Linked DNA regions of Homo sapiens: region 1 is linked to region 2. A link means that fine-mapping ties the variant in region 2 to the expression of a gene that starts in the linked region. Tissue or cell type: sun-exposed skin. Region 2 holds a variant in brackets; the other region holds the start of a gene. All regions are shown on one strand. Distances are between the middles of the regions.

Region 1 (8,186 bases), 28 kb after region 2:
TATATGAGATGAAGAGATGCTAAATAACCTGATTTTATCATTATTCAACATATACATGTATGAAAACCTTCCTTGTACCTTCTAATTGTATACATTTAGTATATGACAAATAGTGTTTTAGGAAGTATAAAGAAACAATGCCAAAATTTATGTGGAAATGTGAAACACCCTGAATTTCCAAAGCTATTCTGAGAAATACAAACCATACGGGATGCATCACATTCCCTGAGTTCTAATTAAATGAAAATCCGTAGTTAACAAACCCATATGTTACTGGCATAGACAGAGAAACACAGACCAGTGAGCAAAATGAATGTGCTCAATAATAAACAAAAATTTATATGGAATGAACACATTTTTCAAAACACCACCAAAATGACACAACAGGGAAGACTTCCGAAACTAGATATCCATATGCAAAAGGGTAATACAGGACCCTTATGGTACTAGATACACAATAATCAACTCAAAATGATTAAAGATTATACACAAAACTTGCAACCATAAAGCTCCTATAAAGACAACCTCGGGTGTGCGTATATTTAGAGCAACTTGGATGTATGCTCAGGGTTCACAAAAAGTAAACAAAAATACAAGGGAAAAAAATTATTGACAAGGGACTGCTTTGGTAGTGATTTTGTTTTTTCTTGATTAGTAACCAACAGCACAGCCACCAAGAAATTATGCACATGTGGGACCACGTCAAGCTGAAGCATTTGTGACCAACAAAGGAAACAATAAACAAAATAAAAAGGCACACTAAAAATTACAAGTTTGGGATAAGGGATTATTTTTGAAAAGGTACAAGCCAGTCATACTACCAGCTGGCAAAAAAATAACAAAACAACAGAACAATTGCCAGACAAAAACTGGGCAAATAACCGGATTAGATATTTTTCCAAAGAAGACAGGAAACTGACCGAATGTCTACAAAAACGTGGTTAACATTACTACTCATGAGAAAAATGCAGATCAAAACCACACTCAGATCTTATCTCACTCCAATAGAATGAACATTACAAAAAGATCAAAATATTTAAAAAGACAATTCCTGGTATGAATTGCCAGAAAGGGGAACTGTTTGTGCAAACATAAATTAGTATTAACACTATAAAAAACAGTTAGAGGTCTTGCAAAGAATAGGAAAAAAAGAAATACCATTCCATCTAGCAGTCCCATTACTGGGTGTAAATTCAACCTACCTGTTCATCCACAGATAAAGAGATCAAGAAACTCTCATATACATACACTAGGAAATATTCTTCAGCCATCAAAATAATGAAACAGTCCCATTTAGAGCAACGCAGATGAACCTGGAAAACATTATGTTAAATGTAAGGAGCTAGGCCTAGAAAAACACTGCATGATACCACTCATGTGAAATCTTAAGATGTTTATCTTAATGAAGTAAAAAGCACAATATTGGTTACCAGAGTTTGGGAGATAGAGGGGGAATGGGGAAGGATTGATTATGGAAACAAAGTTATCTTAACATTAAAGGAACAAATCTGAGGTTCTCCTCCTCAGCCTGGTGACTGGAGTTAACAATATCATATTTTTCTAGAGTAAGAAGGGAGAATTTTGAATGTTCTCCCCACAAAAAAAAAAAAAACCTGGATGAGCAAATAGAGATCCTAAGTACCCTGATTTGATCATTACCCAATCTGTATGTATGAAAATGTACCCCTAATTATGGACCTTTATGTTGTGAAAAAAAGTTAACAGAAATAAATACGTATTGCTAAAAATCACAGGGAACCACAAAAGCAATGAATATCTAAAGGAATCCTGAGAAATACAAAGTGAAGACCCACAATCCTTAATATCAAATTACACTGCCAAGTTGTAGTTATACAGCTGATATATGATACTTGCATAAACTATGGACAAAAACAGGGAGGACAAAAACATGATCAACACAAATATGGACACAATCAACTGACTTTGATAAAGAACACTGCAATGTGGAAGGCAGAGAATGAATACCTTTGACAAAAATGATATCCAGATGCAGAAGCGAGAAATAGGACCTTATTTTACACGATGTATGAAAATGAACACCCACTCCCCCAAATTGAAGGCAAAACAAAAGACCATAAACTACAAAATGTTTTTAACTAAAACACAGGATGAGCATATATTTTGGGTCACTTGAATCTCTGCTCACCTTTGCAAAGAGGAAAATAAACACCCTGGAAGAAAAACCTCATTGACAATTAAATGCTTTGTCACTGACATATTATTTTCTTATATGGGTGACGAAAATTACATGCATGAAACGCAAAAATAAATATCATGTTGACTACATCAACATGAAAAGTTTCTGCACATCAAAGAAAACTACTTTCCAATTAAAAAAGCATCCTATAGATTAGGCAAAAATTTCAGGCAATCTTGTAATTCACGAGGAGTTGTCATCTAATATGTACACAAAAAACACTACAAAGTAGCAAAAGCATCCAATCTAATATTTTGCAAAGAACCTGAACAGACAATTCTGCACAGCCATAAAATCGAACAACAAATAAGAGATAAGGTCCTCAAAATCAACTATTCATTAGAAAACTGTAATTCAAAACCACACACAGATAATCTCACACTTATCGAATATTCCTTGATTTTTTTAAAAAAATAGGAGGGGCTGGGAACGGTGTCTCATGCCTGTAATCTCTGCACTTTGCGAGGCTGAGGCAGGTGGGTCACCTGAGGTCAGGAGTTTGAGACCAGCCTGACCAATATCGTGAAACCCCATCTCTACTAAAAATACAAAAATGAGCTGGGCATGGTGGCGGCGCCTGTAGTCCCAGCTACTCTGGAGGCTGAGACAGGAGACTTGCTTAAAACCAGGCAGCGGTTGCAGTCGGCCGAGATGGCGCCACTGCACTCCAGCCTGTAAGACAGAGCAAGACTCCGTCTCAAAACAAAAACAAAAACAAAACAAACCCCAAACCAAAAATAGTAGGAATGCGGGTGTGGTTTTGGAGAAAGGGAAACTCATACACTGTAGGTGGAAATGAAAATTAGGATACACACCATGGAAAACAGCTAAATAGCTGGAGACTCCTCAAAGAACTGAAAATACAGATGCCCCCTGCTCTAGCGAGGTCTCTTTTTAAAGGTGCTGAGGCATCAAAAATAATCCTAGACTCCAGCTCAGAGGCCCCTGGGGCTCCGAGGGACCCAGGTCCCGCGTTTTACCGCCAGCTGTGGGCCAGGGCGCTCCTATACGCTGGACGCGGGTCGGACATTGGCATAGCCTTCCCGGCCGGGGTGCGGACGCTGCAGTAGCCAGGACCGCACAACCGCCCCCAAGCGGAGGACTCGGGCCCAGATGCCCACGAAGAAGTGCGGGCACGAAAACAGGGAGAGGCAGGGAAGGAGCAGGGAGGGTTCCCGGTGGGGTCCACGCCCCCGCCACTGACCGCGGAGACCTGTCTCCTACTCCACCATCACATGGAACCCACCACCGCTCAGAAGCTCGCTCTGACCACGCTGCTGCTGCTGCAGGGGCGTCGCAGGAACTGCAGTCTCAGCTCCGTAGGGACACGCACGCTAGCAGCATCCCTAGTGCCAGGTTGAAGCTCCACCCCCTCTTAAAGGGACCGCGGCTCGGACTTGCCAGAAGCCGCTTAGGGTTGCGGCACAGGCTGAGCCTCTGCCCAGCCCAGGGGACGACGAAAGGCCCCTGGTCTCTCATCCTCCCCAGCTTTCGGGCCCTAGAAGTCGCAGGAGCGCTCCCTGTGACCGCCTCCCGGAGATCGGCTCCCTTTGCCTAGGGAGCGCCCAGGACCTGCCCCTGCCCTCCTCTGGACCTCAGCTTCACCATCCGCAAAGGAAGCAGCCTCGCTAGAGCTCTGGGGGTCCCTCAAGCTTGGCGTCTCAGGATCCAGGGTGGGCTCCCCTGCCCCTCTGCAGAGGGGGCCCAGAGAACCACAGAAAGCTGGGGGCTGGAGGGACAGTTCGGAGGGCAGCAGGGCCTCCCCGGCCTCACTGTCCGCATCTGTCCTGTGGGAGCTCGCGGGCCTCGCTATGGCCCAGGCACCCACAGCCTCACCAGGGCTGCCTGGGTCACCGGGCTCTCCAGGAGGCAGGCAGGGGCCCTGGGGTCCAGCGCTGCCCCCATCTCAACTCTTTCCTTCATCAGGGCCCACGAGGGGCCCTGTGGACTGGACCCAGGCCCGCCCATTCCCAGGGAGAGGCTATTAATTATTTCCTCAATTTCAGAGCCTGTTATTGGTCTATTCAGAGATTCAGCTTCTTCCTGGTTTAGTCTTGGGAGGGTGTATGTGTCCAGGAATTTATCCATTTCCTTCTAGATTTTCTAGTGTACTTGTGTAGAGGTGTTTGTAGTATTCTCTGATGGTAGCTTGTATTTCTGTGGGATCAGTGGTGATATCCCCTTTATCATTTTTTATTGCGTCTATTTGATTCTTCTCTCTTTTCTTCTTTATGAGTCTTGCTAGCGGTCTATCAATTTTGTTGATCTTTTCAAAAAACCAGCTCCTGGATTCATTGATTTTTTTGAAGGGTTTTTTGTGTCTCTATTTCCTTCAGTTCTGCTCTGATCTTACTTATTTCTTGCCTTCTGCTAGCTTTTGAATGTGTTTGCTGTTGCTTCTCTAGTTCTTTTCATTATGATGTTAGGGTGTCAATTTTAGATCTTTCCTGCTTTCTCTTGTGGGCATTTAGTGCTATAAATTTCCCTCTACACACTGCTTTAAATGTGTCTCAGAGATTCTGGTATGTTGTGTCTTTGTTCTCATTGGTTTCTAAGAACATCTTTATTTCTGCCTTCATTTTGTTATATACCCAGTAGTCATTCAGGAGCAGGTTGTTCAGTTTCCATGTAGTTGAGTGGTTTTGAGTGAGTTTCTTAATCCTGAGTTCTAGTTTGATTGCACTGTGGTCTGAGAGACAGTTTGTTATAATTTCTGTTCTTTTACATTTGCTGAGGAGTGCTTTACTTCCAACTGTGTGGTCAATTTTGGAATAAGTGCTGTGCGGTGCTAAGAAGAATGTAGATTCTGTTGATTTGGGGTGGAGAGTTCTGTAGATGTCTATTAGGTCTGCTTGGTGCAGAGCTGAGTTCAATTCCTGGATATCCTTGTTAACTTTCTGTCTCGTTGATCTGTCTAATGTTGACATTAGGGTGTTAAAGTCTCCCGTTATTATTGTGTGGGAGTCTATATTTTGGTTGCAGATGAGTTTATAGTCAAAGTAAAAAACACACGAAGGGCATTCACATTTCCAGGAACAGAAGCATCCTGTCTGGTTTTTCAGAGGTGAAGGGAGCAGTCTGAAGGGGCTGTGGCACAGGTGTGTCTATAATCAAAGCTCACAGCCGAGGCCCTGGGGGAGGTTCAGGTATGCCCCAGGGGGTGCGCCTCATCCAGCACTTCACTGCCAGGGGCCTCATCTTTATTAAATTCTGGGCCTTTTCCTGGGCAATAGTTACACAAGGTGCGTTCAATGAACCCTATGTCCTGTGGCTGCCACCCATTGCAGGGTCACAAAGGTAATGATCACCACCCCCTCCACCTTCTGCTGAGGGTCCGGGTGACCCCCTGGTGGTGTAACCCAGGCCCTCACCCCTAAGGGGTCCTGAGTCTTGCTCACCACGGAGTCCTTGGTCTAGGGCTCCCACACTTGTCCACGTACCATCAAATGCTGTGTATTGAGAGGCGCTTGTGTAGAGCCCCTCCTGCCCCAGGCAGCATAACCCTGCTTCTGCTGAAACCACGGTCCAGGTGGTACACATTTTTCTGCCCGCAGGTCCCATGGAGGAGCAGCCTGAGGACAAAGCAGCACCCAGAGCTTGTTTTTTCAGAGAATTTGGCCTTGTCCTGTCTAGAAGCCCCACAGCTGTGGAAACCAGGACCTCCTGCTTTTCAGAGCCTAGATGTGCAGGATATAGATGCACCTCAGAGGTCCTGGGTGTGAGGTGGAAGGTTGGGGGACACTGGGCTTCCTACTGCTGTGCTCCCATTGCCGCATCTTCTACCTGGTGGGACAAGGCAGCTAGCAAGGGTGACAGATTCACCCAGACACTGTGTCCTCCCACATCCTGACCTGGCACCTGAGCCAAACTGCTGGGTCTGAAGCTCCCAGGAGCATGTGTGTGCTGTGACCAGTGGACCTATGGCATGCGCCCTCTTCCTCCCTCTATGGCATGGTATCAATTCCTCTGATGGTGTCATGTGAGGTCTCGTCCTGATGGGTAGAACTTTCTATAAACCATCCCATGGCCCTGGGGAAAGGCAAGCTCATCCCTTCAGGTTTAGCTGTTTCTGTTAAATGCAACCCTGTTCTTCCCAGGGCATCAGGGCCCGGTGCAGTTGTCCCAGCCTGACAGGAAGTCCCCTTGATGGTTGTGTGGAGGGTGCAGGCTGGGCCTAGCTCATGACCCTGGCAAAGGGCAGGTGAGCCCTGGGGCTGACCACCTGCACTTTCTGTTTGGTGGTGGGAGATGTGGGGCAATATTTCTTGCCTTCCCTTTAGAGAGCATCTCCCAGCCTGCCCAGACCACTAGACCCCTAAAAATGTGACTTGTAGGCAGGTCCTGCCTGGCTCTCTGTGGTGCTTTTCTCTCCCCTCCAAGCATCTGTGACTCCCAGGCCTCCAGCCCTGCTGGCTTCCCCCATCTGAGCTCCTGATGCAGGGGGAGGACTGTACTGTGGCAGGCAGCATGCCGGTTTACACAGTTCTGGGACAAAACTATAGGTATACCTTATTTTATGTCCCAGGTAAATGAATCCAATTTCTTGATGCTTTTTTGACACAGAGGGAAGAAATGCATTGGTGAGCTCCATGGGCCAGAGCTCAGGTCCATGCTCAGGCTCTGGGAGCAGCTGCGCAGCTCTGGAGCTGTTGCGGGGCCCAGGGAAGGGGTGGGTGCTGTGTCTTTGCTCACTGTGTTAAAGGCTTTATTTGTTTCTTTGTTCAGCTTGTTTTCTTTGACCCCTGTTTAGCAATACTGAAAATCAAGCATTTCTAAGAGGCGGAAACCTTGATTTGGAGCAGGGGCGGGGCATTGGGTGGAAATGGAAAATAGGTTGATAGTGGGAATTTCATTTTCTGGAGCTCACGTGCAGCCTCTTGATGGCCCCGTCACAAGTTCACCTGATGACCTGAGTGGCCACTGTCTTTCTCCTGAGTGGTTTGTATGCTTATCTACCAGCATTTATTATTTTTATTTTTTTGCATGATAAGTTTCCAAGGAACCTTAGTGATGGGGACTGTCTCTCTTAAAATTAAGTTGTGTAAATAACTCCCAGAGCCGTGCTGGTAAGAAACAAAACAAAACAAAAAGAACTAGAAGCTTGAAACAAACATAGGATTTCTGCTGGAAAAAGGATGCAAAGCAGGCCTGCCTGCAGCACTTCCCCAGAGCTAATCCTTGAGCCGAAAGAGCTTCCTGGTGAAGCCTCGCACTCTCTGTAACAGGGCGTGGGGGGACCGAGACATGAGGGCTCCAGATTTGACCATGTTTACCTAGTTATGGGATTTCAATCATGTCTTTTAAATTCTTTGAGCTGCAGTTTTCACATATATAAAGTGAAAATATTTTTAAATCTTTAATTTGTATTATAACCTTGTGTAAAGATAAAATAGTACACTTGAAAGCATTTTAGCTGAAGTCAAACGTTCACGTGTGTGCATGCGATGGCTTCTTAATTATTTTAGGGCTTATCCTGGTTTTACTGGTACTGTTACTAGCACTGCTGCTTCTCCATATCTCTGAAAACTATGAAATACTTAGAACTGAAGCAACAAGAAGCACCTGTCAAAGCGTTCTATGGCCGATGACAGATTTGACACAACTAGATATAACAATATGTTAGATGGTGCCTACAGCACTGCTGAGCAGAGACTTCATGCTGTTCAAAGTCAAAGGTGTCCCTAGAATTCTGAACTTGCTGAAGCCGCCCTCAGAACTGAAGTTGAGAAAAGTACATTTTCAATTAAAGAAAGTCTGAGAGAATGTGTTGCCATCACACCCAAACCACAATAAATGCAAAAGAAAGCTGCTCAGGTTGAAGAAAAATGATAACAATTGGAAATTCTAGTTCTCAGAAAAGATGAAAGTGTGCCAAAAATAGTAAACATGTGGAGGGGAAATTGCTATTTTAATGACATCCTCCAGGAATTACAACATGTGCAGAAGAAAAATCTATGACAACATGGCA
Region 2 (8,159 bases):
GCCGAGGCGGGCGGATCACCTGAGGTAGGAAGTTTGAGACCAGCCTGGCCAACATGGGGAAATCCCGTCTCTACTAAAAATACAAAAATAAGCCAGGTGTGGTGGCGCATGCCTGCAATCCCAGCTACTCGGGAGGCTGAGGCAGGCGAATCGCTTAAACCTGGGAGGCAGAGGTTGCAGTGGCCACTGCACTCCAGCCTGGACAACAGAGCAAGACTCCCTCTCAAAAAAAAAAAAAAAAATTGGAGCTAGGCAGGTTCCATGCCCAGAGCTAGTGGTCAGGAATCAAATGGCAAGGAATCAAAACTGGTCACACAAGCCACAGTTGGGGCAAACCTGAAAAGACAGTTGCAGTGACCATGGATCCTCAAGAATGGAATAGGAAGGCAATATAAAGTTTGGTAAACAGTCAGGAAACTGGAAATGTGATGAACAAAATGAAGGATAATGTAAACGAGAGGCCAAATTTGAGATCTTCAAAAATGCAGCAAGGCACTTTTGTGTGTCAGCTCCAGTGTATGTATAAGGATCCTTTGAAGGAAAGCATTGACTCTTGAGGAGCAGGTGCTCAGGATTACATGATCGAGGTAAGGGAATGTAGGTGGAACTGGACCAACAGTTTCTCCTCAAGAAAATTCTGGCAATAAATATCTTAGACAGTTTTTAGAAGAACCTTTCCAGTCATCCATTTTCTAATTGGACAGCAAGATAAAGCTTTGTCAAATCTCTAGACAAATTTCCCTTGGGATTTACACCATGTTTTCATGATACCACAAAATATTTTGAAAGTAAAAAAACTCAGTCGTTGATGTATGCACTCATTATTAGATCCTCAGTATGTATGGTTTCAGCTAGGAAAGAAAGCATTGCCTCCTCTCTTGTTGACCTGAGTTTACTAAGTAACTGGCTAAAGTTAATTAATGAATCAATTGTACTGTAGCAACATGCATGTGAATGCTAGGCAAAACCCTCCTGTGGATGGCAGAGAATTACTGTCTTTAGGTAACTGTTTGTTTGCTTTCTATCTCTACATTCAAATCTGACCAAGGAATGCCACTAGCTAGACATGTGTAGTGATTACCAGCGAACCTCAGGCCAGGCTCACTCAGGACTGGCTACCCCCAGGATGGAGGGTTGGCATGCCAGTAAGGAACCTGGCCTTAGCAGCAAGTTGTTTTTTTTTTTTTCTGCAAGTATCGTATATTTCTTCTCCAACCAATTTTGTTCCCCTTGGTTCCTGGGAACCATTATACTGTTAGGTTAATGGATCATTGGTTTATCCACCTGTACGTTTCCTGAATTTTGGCCATTCAACCATGCATTCCTGGTGATTGGGTTTACAAGTACTAGTTTCCTAGGTCCAACATCACATTCAGATATCTCTTAACTATAAATTGGTGTAGTAACTGTGATATATCAGCATAGAGATGGCTCCATCCATTAAAAATATATTGGTGGCTTCAAAAAGTTTTATATTTGTTACTGGCATATAAAACAAATAAATGCCCAGATACAAAATTGTGCAGAACCCAGATTAGTATCTAATAAAGAATTAATAAAGAATATGTATTAATATAGATATATTTATTTACATATTAATGGTTTTTTCAAATTGGCCAAATTTTTCAAAACAATTACATATTAAAAATTGAGATATATGAAAATTCTAACTAATAGATTTATAGTCATTCCTAGGGTAGGCATTAACACCTCTTGGTAACTTCTGTAAGTTAATTATAGTTTAACTTCCTAATTAATTAATTCTGTAAGTTAATTTATAGTTTAACTTCCCAGAGGCTTTGGTGTCTTTTTTTACCCTCACTTTAAAATACACACAATAGTATATAATATATCACATTTGGTCAACAGTTCAAATTTTTTTATTCTTTAAAGCATGTACAAAAATATACTAGTTAGAATTCCTGTGAAAAATTCTAATACAGAGGAATTATATGGCTATGTTTGGAAAGATAATATTTCTTTAAAAATGTGTTGTTTTTTATGTTTTATGTTTGCAATAAGCATTATTTAAGTTTGATTGAAGAACTTCATGATTTTTATGTATTACTTTCTTGTATTGAGAAATAGTGGTCCATTGTTGGGCTGTATTTAAAATTAATGTGTATGAAACAAGAAATATTTAATTAGAGTTATTAATTTTCCACAAGTAATATGTGTATTTGACCTAAATCAGTATCTTTTATCATAACAGCCTCACATACAACAAGAATAATAGCAAGGACAACAACACCAAATCTGAATGTTTCCTTTGTGCCTATGCTCCTAACTATCATGTTATACTCATTCATATAAACCTAACAATTAATTTGAAGTTAGACACACAGGATTTACTCATCAGTATTAGAGCATTCGCTGTTATCCAGGAAGAAAACTATCCCTGGTGCTGAAACTGCCCCGTGTAGTCCTTGTGGTTGAAGAATTAAAACAGTTTCTTTTAGACATTTCCTTTCAGGAAGTATTAAATTTCACATATGTTAACATCTTAATTAATATAAGATTAATATTCTACTTATGACTATGTTTTAATATTGAAAAATGAGTTTATGATGAGTTTCATTAGTTTCTAGAGAAAACAATGGTTTAAAAAATTTCAGTACATAAGACATTGAAGCGTCTATGAATGTTCCAGAAATCTGAAAACATATACCACTAATCAAAAGTTTCTCCATTCATGTTGACTAGCATTTGCCTTAGGTGTCAGAATTAATGGATTTCTGTTAAAAATAAACACCTGAAATCCAATTCCCTAACTGCATTATAACACACTTGATTACAAGTACTTAGCTTTTATTTAATGCTTATAATGACTTTAAATTGTAGCGAAATGGGCTTCCCCCAAGAGGACTGCTTTGTTGATCCTGAGTTGGGGTCCTAAGCCAGAAGTTAACTATGCTTTCATATATTCTTGCAAGTAGAGGTACAGTGTTGGTGTAAATTCTCCTTAAATGGATAGCTAAGCCCAGAGGAAATAATGGTAATTGGCACCATATGACCGTATGCAATTCATGTGCATATCAAGAAAAGAACATTATAGGTCTGGTGAGACCCTATTTTGTTCTGACAATGTCATCTGTATTTATATGTCTGTTTCGGGAATTTGGAAGTCAAGGGATTCTGTGCTGGATTGTAAAGCTTCTGCTTTGTGTGCTTCTGCTTGATGTAGCTACTCAATTTTGTATTCTTGACTAATAAAGTCATAAACATAATTCAACCTCCGTGTGTGTGCTCTCCTTCCATTAATTTATACTTTAGCAAAAAGTATTGAATGTGTGTGTTATGTAACAGTTTCCTATAAATTATATTAAATGATTTATTAGCTTTATTCAATAAAGTTTTAAGTGTTTTCTTCTATGACTACATTACTTGTTAACAAGAAATTTCTTTAACTGAAAACTTCAAGCAAGATTATCTGGGTAACTCTTTCAAAAAGAATTGTACCTGTATTTTGGGATTGAATATATTAATTTCTTTTACTGTTTTAATAGGACATAATTTTACAAGACAAGCCACTTTTTCAAAGCCTGCTTCTCCTCCCATTTTCCCTATCTCTGTGATTGACACCTCCAACCCCTGTAGCCTGCCTCTGCTCTCTCTTAACCAAGTCCTACTGATACTACTTCCTAAGTATTTTTCAGCCCTGTCCTTCCTCTCCATCATGATGGACTCATTTCCAGTTGAAATCCTTATGGTACCCTCCCTGGATTATTGCAGTAATCAGAGAGCTGGTCTCCTTAACTCAGGATTCACTTCTTCTCATCTGTTGTTCACAGTGACACCAGAAAGATATTTTAAAATGATGAACTAGAATTAATTATATAAAACACACATACACACATAAATAATACTTAAATCTTTCAATGATGTTCCAATTATATAAAATATAATATAGGAGGCACTTTATGTTCTGGCCTCAGTCTTTCAATTCAAACTTATCTCCGGCCACTATCTCCTTTGACAATTGTATTCTGGCTACTTTAGAATAATAATAATATATAATATTCATAGAGCCCTTCCTGGGTTCCTATCACTGTACAAAATACTTCACATATAACATTTAATCTTTGACAACTTTATTAGGCAGGTACTATTATTATCTATCTATATATCTATATCTATATATATAAAATCTATATTTTATAGATAAAAAAAGAGGGTAAAAACTTGCCAAAATTGCAAAGCTTAGAAGTGTAGCCATTGGGATTTGAGTCTAGGCATCCTGCCTCTACAGTCCACAGTGGCTTTCTTGTGCCAAAAGGCTTGCAGTTCCCTAGACTTGACATTTCTCAAAATCTGTGTCTTTCACATGCTCTTCCAATTGTCTGGAAAATCTTTCCCAACCTCAGTCTACCCATGGTACTCATGTTCACCCCACAAGAAATGACTCCATCTGTCCCCTCTCCATGAAAATTTCTCTGAATCTCAGCACTTTGGGAGACTGAGGCGGGTGGATTGCCTGAGCTCAGGAGTTCAAGACTGCCCTGGGCACCATGGTGAAACCCCGTCTTTACTAAAATACAAAAAACTCACCAGGTATGGTGGCACATGCCTGTAATTCCAGCTGCTCCAGAGGCTGAGGCAGGAGAATTACTTGAGCCTGGTAGGCAGAGGTTGCAGTGAGCCAAGATTGCACCACAGCACTCCACCTTGGGCTATAGAGTGAGACTCCATCAAAAAAAAAAAAAAGAAAGAAAGAAAGAAAGTTTCCCTGGTAAGGACTCATGCCTTGGCACTGAGGGCATCTT[G/T]CAAAACTCAAGGATGCCACTTGGTGTAGCAGATAGAAAATAATTGTGATATGAGACAGGCCTGAATTGGATTTATGGCTCTATTGCATATTGGTTTTGTGATTTTGGGAAAGTCATTTAATCTTTCTGAATTTTAGTTTCTTTAGGGATTAATAGTACCTTTTCCAGGGAGCTGTTATTAGGATGAGACAATGATCAGAAAATAGCAAGAATTCATTAGTGCTCTCACCACCCTTCCTCTGTTGCAGCCCTCAGTACCTGAATGGCAATCGTGCATCTTCTCATCGGCCTGTGAATTGCTTCCCCTTTCATCTTAGGCTCTGCAGTATTCAGTGTCACTAGTGAAATGTGTGAAATGAATGAATCGACAACTGATGCTTAATACCTAACGAGACAAGTGAATGAATCCTTTTGTTCATTTTATGGCCAGAAAGATAGTGTAATTAAGTAATAACAACTGGCAAAAAAGAGAAACTCCACCTATACTTTGTCCTTTTCTCAAGTAGCATCTAAAACTTTTTCCTTCTGATTAAAAAATTATCACTGAAAGATCTCTTTGAATGTGTCTTGAATTTTGTATAAGCAGGTGATCTCAGCTCAGCATAATACTAGAAGATTATATGATTTTAAAAATTGGTTCATAGTTTTATAGTCTTGGAATATCTATCATCTATCTATCTATCTATCTATCTATCTATCTATCTATCTATCTATCTATCTAGGTATCTATCTACCTATCTACCTACCTACCTACCTACCAATCTGTCATCTTCAAATATATTTAGGCTGCTTTCCTGAGGCTGATTTTTTATTCCATTCTTTCATTTTTTTCAAGATCCTGGTATTCCCTGGTGTATTGGGTCTAGGTATTTATGATTAGGAGAAGAAATGATTCAGTGGCAGCTCCCCAGGATTTTGGATTATGAGACATGAAACTAGAAATGGCAACTTAGGTGGATTGTTTGAGAACACTGTGTATTACTGCTTCTGTATCAACTTCTATTCTCCCTTGTTCATACTTTTTTAATATGCATTTCAAGCACTATGTATTGGTGAACATTTCAACCCAAATCATATAATAATAGAAGATGCCATAGTTGGAAAGGCATAAAAGGTCATTCTAAATGTGTGAACAAATTAGAGAACTACAAAATTAGAGATCATCATAGCTATATTGCAGACAGACTTCATTGCTTTTCACAGAAATTAAGCCATAGATAACAATGACAGGTTGAAATAGGTCATGATTTCTAAAAATAATGTCATGTAAATTACCTACGTAAATACATTAAAATATGAATTATTTGAAAAAATGAATAGTAGGTCCTCAGAATAGCCCTACACATAAGTATATAATAAAAGCATGAGTTCAAGAGCAGAATGTTAATGAAGCTCCCTGTCTTGGTTTCTTTAATAAGATTCTTCTATTCTGCTTTCTGGAACTATTATGTTCCCATTATAAACTTTGTACCAAGTTAAAAGTAAGGCCCCTTTTGCCCCTTTTTTCTGTCTTCCTGGCTCTCTAGTCCTAGGAAGTTAAAAAGAGTCAGAAAATCCCATCTTTTCTTCCAGGAAGTTTGGGAGAAAAGTCAAGATAGGCTATAAGGTGTTGCACTTGATAATCCAACCATCCTTCTACTGATGGTAGAGTCTCATTATCCTTCCTCAGATATATGCAATGACAAAAATAGATAATGAGAAAGCATGCATCCAAGTAACTCTTTGAGTGTATAAGGGCTGATTAAGTTGAAAGAAGATTGCCAGGCGAGGTGGTTCATGCCTGTAATCCCACCACTTAGGGAGACTGAGGCAGGCAGATCACTTGAGGTCAGGATTTCGAGACCAGCCTCACCAACATGGTGAAACCCCGTCTCTACTAAAAATACAAAAAGTATTCGGGCGTGGTAGCGCATGCCTGTAATCCCAGGTACTCGAGAGACTGAGGCAGGAGAATCACTTGAACCCAGGAGGCAGAGGTTGCAGTGAGCTGAGATGATGCCACTGCACTCCAGCCTGGGCAGAAGAGTGAGACTCCATTAAAAAAATTGCAAAGTATCTACTAATCTAAAAAATGCACAGCCTCAGTTCTCAAAGAGTTTATGTTGTAGGATCATGTCAGTTCCATGTATAATTTGTTTATCACAACTGCACACTGTTACGTAAAGGAAATGCACAACTTGAGATATTTGTTTTGGCTAGAAAACTGAGAAACATTAATAGAGGCAATTAGTGAACTGTCTTTTCAAGGAGGTTTTTAAATGGAATGTATTCATGATAATGTCAATGCAGGGCTACCTAGAGACAGAGGGAAGAATTAAACAAGTTTTTTTTTTTAACTTAACTTTTGGACTCAGTTATTAAGAAAGCATTTAAAAGTAAAGTCAAATTCAAATCTTTCTATCCTGTGAGCTCTGCCTCTCATCTCTGTCAGGCTCCAACTCCATCAAAGACTGGCGGTCACATGAATGGAGTGGAAAATATTCTCTAGTTTATTTGTTTGTGTATTTTTTCTTTAATGTTCCAACTCACATAATAAGTTTAACATGAAAATTAAAAGCAATCACATGTAATTCTCAATATCAGAGTAGATGAGAGTGGCTGCCTTCTCACCAATACCCAGAATGCACTGCAGTTTTCCCAGCTGCCCTTGCACCTTCTCAATAGCCACGTGACCAGCTTTGGTGACTGCTGTGTGTCAGTGAAGGGAGTATTTTCCCCTTTTCCCTAGCTAACATGCAGATGTGGTGATGAGCTCTTTTGGGCCACAAAGGCCATGCCATAGTGACTGGATAAAAGAAAAATAGAAGATACCCAAGCACTGACCTCCCTGTAAAGCTATGCCACCTTAACAACTTGTTCTATTATGTGACTGGGAAATAGTCTCTTTTCTTGTCTAAGCCACTCTTATTTTGAACTTCTATCACAGCCACCAAACCTGCATCTTAACTAACACAAAACTTTGTACCTGGAAGAGGAGCTGAACAGAAGATAATCTGAAATACATGGCATTTACTCAGAATTCCGCAGCATGTGACAGTGATAAAGCTGGTGAGTTTTGCTAGGCCATGGACAAATGTTTGTTAAAACCACCATCTATGATGTCATGGAAGGTAGAGCACATGGCATCTGAACCTCTAACTCCAAAGAACATGGAGGAAAACATTTCAAGTGTCTGGTATAAGATGCTTGCTTCTTGCTACTTTTAGTAAAGGCTCCAAGAGAGGAACTCAAGCTGGAGCTAACCAACATAAAACAGGGCAGGAAAGGACTATAACTACACCAAGAAGACTCTCTGCCTGTGGCTTGAGATTGAAGTTGGCTAAAGTCTGGGAGGAGCTTCACAGTAAGCCTGCCAACTACTTCCCTACACTGAAGCAGCTGGAAGAAGTGGGTCTG

Evidence for each region. PIP is the estimated chance that this variant, and not a neighbour inherited with it, causes the effect.
Region 1: it holds the start of LINC03124, and the variant in region 2 is fine-mapped to the expression of LINC03124 in sun-exposed skin (GTEx, PIP above 0.99). The same link has a PIP of 0.9 or more in esophagus muscle, thyroid, tibial nerve and whole blood.

The regions. Positions count from the first base shown.
Region 1 is chr2:131,677,836-131,686,021 of GRCh38, reverse strand. It overlaps LINC03124 (long intergenic non-protein coding RNA 3124), which reads right to left and starts at 3,523. Exons shown (of 10, transcript NR_167889.1): 1 at 3,034-3,523; 2 at 1,203-1,313. RefSeq lists a silencer at 3,551-3,600 and an enhancer at 3,971-4,090.
Region 2 is chr2:131,705,716-131,713,874 of GRCh38, reverse strand. All of the region lies in intron 5 of LINC03124 (long intergenic non-protein coding RNA 3124), which reads right to left. Among named protein-coding and RNA genes, the nearest start is that of LINC03124, 27 kb to the right of the region's middle. The variant G/T (reference allele first, on the strand shown) is at 4,764.